2 linked regions of the Homo sapiens genome follow. The protein of the gene in region 1 purifies or fractionates together with the protein of each later gene. This does not show direct contact. Each region holds a gene or a part of one and is shown in the gene's direction. Other genes may lie near its edges. The genes, in order: ZNF556 and NEK7.

The links.
Region 2: the proteins of ZNF556 (region 1) and NEK7 purify together in Homo sapiens (affinity purification with mass spectrometry; one large-scale study listed by BioGRID and IntAct). This does not show direct contact.

What each region holds. Positions count from the first base shown.
Region 1 is NC_000019.10:2,873,672-2,877,495, forward strand, and holds part of ZNF556 (zinc finger protein 556), read left to right. Parts: intron 1-1,136; exon of another isoform or gene 1,137-1,155; intron 1,156-1,262; exon of another isoform or gene 1,263-1,512; intron 1,513-1,827; exon of another isoform or gene 1,828-1,992; intron 1,993-2,331; exon of another isoform or gene 2,332-2,398; intron 2,399-2,421; coding exon 2,422-2,605; intron 2,606-3,601; coding exon 3,602-3,824. UniProt on the Homo sapiens protein: May be involved in transcriptional regulation.
Region 2 is NC_000001.11:198,257,814-198,261,637, forward strand, and holds part of NEK7 (serine/threonine-protein kinase Nek7), read left to right. Parts: intron 1-3,824. UniProt on the Homo sapiens protein: Protein kinase which plays an important role in mitotic cell cycle progression. Required for microtubule nucleation activity of the centrosome, robust mitotic spindle formation and cytokinesis.

The sequences.
Region 1 (3,824 bases):
GTCTGGTTGCAGTGGTTCATGCCTGTATTCCCAGTGCTTTAGGAGGCTAAGGCAGGAGGATCACTTGAGGCTAGGAGTTGACAACCAGCCTGGGCAACATAGTGAGACCTTGTCTCTACAAAAAAAAAATCAAAAATTAGCCCGGTGTGGTAGCATGCTCCTGTAGTCCTAGCTACTTGAGAGGCTGAGGCAGGAGAATCGCTTGAGACCAGGAGTTCAAGGCTACAGTGACCCATGATCACACCACTGTACTCCAGCCAGGGTGACAACTTGAGACCCTGTCTCAAATAAAAAAGAAAAAAGAGCCAGGCACGGTGGCTCACGCCTGTCATCTCAGCACTTTGGGAGGCCAAGGCGGGTGGATTGCCTGAGCTCAGGAGTTCGAGACCAGCCTGGGCAACACGGTGAAATGCCATCTCTACTAAAATACAAAAAATTAGCTGGGCATGGTGGTGCGTGCCTGTAATCCCAGCTACTCGGGAGGCTGAGGCAGGAGAATTGCTTGAACCCGGGAGGCAGAGGTTGCAGTGAGCCAAGATCATGCCACTGCACTCTAGCCTGGGCCATAGAGTGAGACTCCGTCTCAAAAAATAAATAAATAAATAAATAAATATTTCTTGCTCATTAAGCCTATTCTAAGATTTAGAATGCAGAAGGGGAATACATTGGTTAATAAGACAGTTATAATCATTGATGTCCTGGACCTAAAATTCAGTAGCTTCTCTGTGATAATAAAAATCTACCTATCAATCTGTACTTTTCTTTCTGCCTTGTTGAAAAGACTTAGGATCAGCCAGGCGCGGTGGCTCATGCCTGTAATACCAGCACTTTGGGAGGCCGAGGCGGGCGGATCACGAGGTCAGGAGTTTGATACCATCCTGGCTAACATAGTGAAACCCTGTCTCTACTAAAAATACAAAAAATTAGCCAGGTGTGGCGGAGGGCACCTTTAGTCCCAGCTACTTGGGAGGCTGAGGCAGCAGAATCCCTTGAACTCGGGAGGCAGTGGCTGCAGTGAGTCGAGATTGTATCACTGCACTCCAGCCTGGGTGACAGAGTAAGACTCTGTCTCAAAAAAAAAAAAAAAAAAGAAAGAAAGAAAGAAAGAAAAAGAAAAGACTTAGGGTCCTTTTGTGTTACCAGCGCAGGTATATACTGGCGGCACAGAGAGGTTAATTGTTTGAAACCTTGTGATGATTTTTCTGTGTATTTAAAATTGTCTACCATTTTGACTGCTTGTACTTTTTTTTTTTTTTTTTTGCTTCTCATTAGTTGAAATCCTTGAGAGGGACAGCATCACAGGGACTCTGTGTCCAGTGGTCTTAGCAGGAAGATTGCTTCAGAATTTGGCATGAATCATGCCACTGTTTCTGTGGGCCTGAATGCCCTTCCCTCAGATGATTCTGGTTTGGTTTGGTTTGCCACCAGGAGTTACTGTGTTGTTGTTTGCTTTGTATACATAAGCATGTCTCTTACCCAAATAGAATTCAGTTTCATCTTGAACATAAACACCTTCAATTATTACTATTATTATTATTTTGAGACAGAATCCTGCTCTGTCGCCCAGGCTGGAGTGCAGTGGCACGATCTCGGCTCACTGCAAGCTCTGTGTCTCAGGTTCACGCCATTCTCCTGCCTCAGCCTCCCGAGTAGCTGGGACTACAGGCGCCCGCCACCACGCCCGGCTAATTTTTTGTATTTTTAGTAGAGACAGGGTTTCACCATGTTAGCCAGGATGGTCTCCATCCCCTGACCTCGTGATCCGCCCGCCTCGGCCTCCCAAAGTGCCAGGATTACAGGCGTGAGCCACTGCGCCCGGCCAAACACCTTCAATTTTAAGAAGAACTGTGTGCTCCCTTTGGTTCTGGAGACCCTGCTTATAGGCAGCCAAAATGGCCTTGGACCACCACCTTCCAGACACATTTTCTTTTGGGAGTCGTGTTCCCTGCAGGCCTCCACAGGCTCCAAGATGGCAGAAGGAGAGCTCTTGTACTTCTTCATAATGAAGTCAGGCCGGGCACAGTGGCTCACACCTGTAATCCCAGCACTTTGGGAGGCCAAGGCAGGCGAATCACAAGGTCAGGAGATCAAGACCAGCCTGGCCAATATGGTGAAACCCCGTCTCTACTAAAAATAAAAAAAATTAGCTGGGCATGGTGGCACGCACCTGTAATCCCAGCTACTTGGGAGGCTGAGACAGGAGAATCGCTTGAACCCGGGAGGCAGAGTTTGCAGTGAGCCGAGATCGCGCCGCTGCACTCCAGCCTGGGCGACAGAGTGAGACTCCGTCTCAAAAATAAATAAATAAATAGATAAATAAAATAAAATCACATAATGAAGTCATGAAACAATTAAACACCTGAATTACTTCTTTCTTTGCAGATGCCTTCCTCATCATATTGGTTCACTTTTTTGTTTCAGATAATGAGGCTCAGCTTAAAGCCAGTGGGTCTATTTCTCAGCAGGATACTTCTGGAGAAAAATTATCCCTCAAACAGAAAATAGAAAAGTTCACAAGAAAGAATATATGGGCCTCCCTTTTAGGAAAAAATTGGGAAGAACATAGCGTTAAAGACAAGCACAACACCAAGGAGAGACATTTGAGGTGAGTTGTACTTAGAAGAAAAAGGCAGTATCGCCAGGCACGGTGGCTCATGCCTGTAATCCCAGCACTTCGGGAGGCCAAGGGAGGCGGATCACCTGGGGTGAGGAGTTTGTGACCAGCCTGACCCATATGGTGAAACCTTGTCTCTACTAAAAATACAAAAATGGGCGCGGTGGCTCACACCTGTAATCCCAGCACTTTGGGAGGCCGAGGGAGGCGGATCACCTGGGGTGAGGAGTTTGTGACCAGCCTGACCGACATGGTGAAACCCTGTCTCTACTAAAAATACAAAAATAGGCGTGGTGGCATGTGGCTGTAATCCTAGCTGCTCAGGAGGCTGAGACAGGAGAATTGCTTGAACCCAGGAGGCGGAGGTTGCAGCAAGCCAAGATCGTGCCACTGCACTCCAGCCTGGGCTGGGCAACAGAGTGAGACTCTATCTCAAAAAAAAAAAATGATAATTCTGTTAGAAACAATTATCAGAGAGCCCCACATATTACTATTGTTTTTGTAATGGACTGTGGTTGAACTATCTACCAGAGTATTTCGTTTATTCTAGTTTGAAATAATTTCAACAGTACAGGAAACTTACCCTTGTATAGAAAATGGCAAAAATGTTATCCTAATATTCATTAATATATATTAAGAAATAATTGGCCGGTGCAGTGGCTTATGCCTGTAATCCCAGCACTTTGAGAGGCCAAGGTAGGTGGGTCACCTGTGGTGAGGAGTTTGTGACCAGCCTGACCAATATGGTGAAACCCTGTCTCTACCAAAAATACAAAAATTAGCTGGGCGTGGTGCCATGTGACTGTAATCCCAGCTGCTCAGGAGGCTGAGACAGAATTGTTTGAACCTGGGAGGCAGAGGTTGCAGTGAGCCAAGATCATGCCACTGCACTCCAGCCTGGGGAACAAGAGCAAAACTCCATCTCAAGGAAAAAAAAAAAGAAATTATTAAGGCATAAACCATTAATAATGTGCTACCCATTTTTAGCAGAAATCCAAGGGTGGAGAGACCATGTAAAAGCAGTAAAGGTAATAAACGTGGAAGAACCTTCAGAAAGACTCGAAATTGTAATCGTCATCTGCGCAAGAATTGTTGTACTAGTGTAAGACGGTACGAATGCAGTCAGTGTGGAAAACTCTTCACCCATTCCTCATCCCTGATAAGGCACAAAAGAGCTCACTCTGGACAAAAATTATATAAATGTAAGGAA
Region 2 (3,824 bases), on another chromosome or scaffold:
AAAATTTCCAGTTTTATGGATTGTTTAACATTTTGGGGTTAAACTACTATATGGCAGACACTGTACTTGACAATAGGGACACAATAGTGGGACACAATAATTAAATCCAACATTTTTGTGTGGAAAATAGACAATAAATCAAATAATTATAGCAAAAAATAAATCAAATAATTATAGCCAAAAAGGAAATGACCATGCTGTGGTATTAGAGACAAACTAGAGGAGGAGAGCATTTTAGATAGAGTGTGCAGCAAAGGCCTCTCCGAGGATGTGAAATTTAAGCGTAGGTGGAGGATAAGGAGTCAGTCATCTGAAGGGTAGTGACAGGAAGGTTCCAGCTGTAGAGCCGGGCACGGTGACTCAACGCCTGTAATCCCAGCATTTTGGGAGGCTGAGGCGGGCAGATGACGAAGTCAAGAGATCAAGACCATCCTGGCCAACATGGTGAAACCCTGTCTCTACTAAAAATACAAAAATTAGCTGGGTGTGGTGGCACACGCCTGTAGTCCCAGCTACCTGGGAGGCTGAGGCAGGAGAATCGCTTGAACCCGGGAGGTGGAGGTTACAGTGAGCCAAGATCACGCCACTGCACTCCAGCCTGGAGACAAAGCAAGACTCTCTCAAAAAAGAAAAACAACAACAACAAAAACTTGCTTAGTATATATTTTTAAGTACTTTGTTTTCTGCATTTTAAATGGTCTTTCTTCTAACAATTTGACATATGCCTTTTTAAGGGGATATTTCTGTTAAGTTACTAGAAGGATTTCATTTCCTTTTAAAGAAATCTAGTGTTAACCTTTTCAGTTTCATTAGCTATGAGTAATTTTGGCAAAATTTTAAGATGACAAAAGAAAACCTTTAAAATGATTCAGAGAATACCAAGAATTTATCAGTCATTACTTGCCTAACCACAGCTCATCCCTTGCTCTTACCAAGTATAAAATGAGTTTAAAAACCTGAAGAAACTTTGGTGGAGCTGAATGAAAATGATGCCTCCTAAAGACTTGTTTGTACATATTATATGCAAGATATTCTTACAAAGTCCATATTTTCACCCAAGACATACTGCTTTTTCTTGCTCATGAAATCATCGGACAGCTTTGAATCTGTGTTTGGGAATGATGTAATCTAAATATTCATTATTATTTATTTTTGTCTTGACTTGTTGGCTGAGAGAAAAAGAAAGATAAGATACTTCTGAATTTCCAGTTAAATGTATTTGTAAATGTATTTTGCTCAGAATTTAGTTTTGCTTTAGATGTGCCATCAATGCTTATTTCTCCCTGTGTTTGAGGAGTGACTTTTGATATTATTGAAAATTCAGTTAAAAATAAAAGTCAATTTGTAATTCTAAATTAATTTTTATAACTTGAATTAAAGATTTTCTATGTAGCATGTTTCTATCTTGATATGTTGTATCTTGTTATGGTTTCCTAAAACTCTTATACATCTATTATTCATTCTTATCTCACTCACCCTCTTTTGTTTTTAAAAATGTTGTTCCACATCATAGAGACATTGATTACTGAGAGATTAAATACATATATGTCTCCAAGTTTGTGATTTTCTTCATTTTAATTACTGGTACTATATGGGCATTATTCTTTCTCTGCCTCCTAAAACAAACAAACAAAAATACCAGGAATTACATCAAGATCTGATATACTTACAATTTTGTGCTTTCCAGTATATCTTTGATTTATCTCAAATTCCTTGTAAATAGCATTTCCTGAGAATGGCATCAGCATTTATGATGTGTCAAGAATCAGTTATTTCTCATGCCATTTTGATTTAAAGTGCAAGTAGTCTGTGTGTGTGTGTTTCATACCTATAACTAATATCAAGTTCAAATTTTTCTGTTTCCATTAGTGTTTGTTTTATTGTTTAACATGTTGATATAATAATCCCTTTGGGGGAATGAATGGCATTTCTATGTGAAATTGCTAAATGTAAAGCTTATTCCTTCAGTTCAAGAACTTTCGATTTTACACACACACTCACACACACACACACATATATATTTTCCTGAAGGGCATTACGCATTCCTGCTTATATAAATCAGTTATTGAGAGCCCTTCCAGCCAGCCATGCTCACCCCCATTAAGGTTCTTACATCACTTTGAACAAGTAGCACTTACAAGTTGCGTGTTAATTTTCTGTGTTGCAGTCTGCATTCTGCATCTGACACTGTGCATCTTAAAGGACTGCAAGATGGTTTTCTTATTTGTATCTGTAATAAAATCTGATAGTAAGATGGCATTCAGCATGGATTTTTATATGTAGAAAGGGTGGGCATTAACAGTTTAAGCTTGTCTGTACTCAGGATCAGGTTATTCATATTAATAATTTGTGTGTAGAGTTAAAACTATGATGCTCTTGGAGAAAATTTCTGCAAGGTTTTTCCTTCCTTCCATAAATAGTGTCATATGGTTTGTTCTTTAATACTGGTAATTTTTTTAACCCCTGCTATTGGTGTCCATTTATATCTAGCTCATTTTGTCAAAGCTTAATGTATACAACAGCTTAATGTTAGCTAAAACATATCTTACTAGATAGTTTATGTGAACTTTGTGATAGTGATTTGCCACTCATAGTCCTTTCCTTTTTTTTTTTTAACCCCTTTTCCTTTCCTTGCTGTTGTTTCATCGTGTTGCATTCTGTTCCATTCTGAAATCATGGTAGTTAACATGAGTTTACTGTGGCTGACATGGTTAGAATTACTGCTAATGGAAAAAAGAGAAGTTAACTCTCTTTAATATATGTACCGGCATACATATTTCTTCTTCTGTTATTTGATTAAGTGGGAGAAACTTTGATGTAATCTAGTCTGTCTCTTTTTGTAAACCATCAAGTAAGGTAAGGCTTTATATTTTTTCAAATCTTAAACTGCAGTGCTCAATATTTTACATTAAAAGTTGCAGAACGTAAATTTGATACTTGAAGTTTTCATTAGAAGTAGTAGAACCAAAATAATGTTAGTGAAAAAGCATATATATCATTTTATATACTGCTATTTTCACTATGCAAAAAGCACATGCGTTTGTACAAGAAATAGAAGGGACTGAGCCAAAGCTAAAATTCTTTAAGGCAGTGAGTTTATGGATTTTATTTTTGCTTTATAATCTTATCTAATATCTTCATATGGTTTTTTAAATTAAGACAAATTAGAACTTTGTGTATCTTTGGATATTAAGAATGATATCTAGAAAAAGTTGCCTCTTATAAGCTGTAATTTTACACCCTTATTCCATATTTACTTTTATGCAGTAGATATCTTTTGTTTCTGACTGGCAGAATCCTATAATTCTTTCAAGGTTCACCTCTAATGGTACCCGCCACCCTACATGGAAGGAATTTCTTCCTTAGGTTTCTAATACTACACTTTGTACACACATATATTTTAATACTTATTAGCTAGTTGTGTATGCATTAGACTTTGTGACAGCCTGGCTCATTGAGAAAACACTGACTATGGAGCTAGAACAACCTGGCTTCAAGTCCTGATTCTGTCCTTTACTAGTTTTATGATCATAAGCATATTATTTAATCTTTTTGAGCCTCAATCCTCATCTTGTTATTGTGGCCAATACTACCTGTCTTATAAGATTGCAATGAAGTTTAAAGCATCATGTGTAAAGAGGCCAGCCCTCTCTGGTAGTGTCTAATAACTACTTCTTTAATTAAAAAGACTTGGATTCTGCCACTCCTTTGACATTGTACCTTCTTTTCCTGGAATGTTAGCTGGCTGAATCAGGAAGACTTGATCAAGCTGATTACTAAAAATGTCATTAATTTTTTTATTTGTTATGTAACTAGGGTTTTAA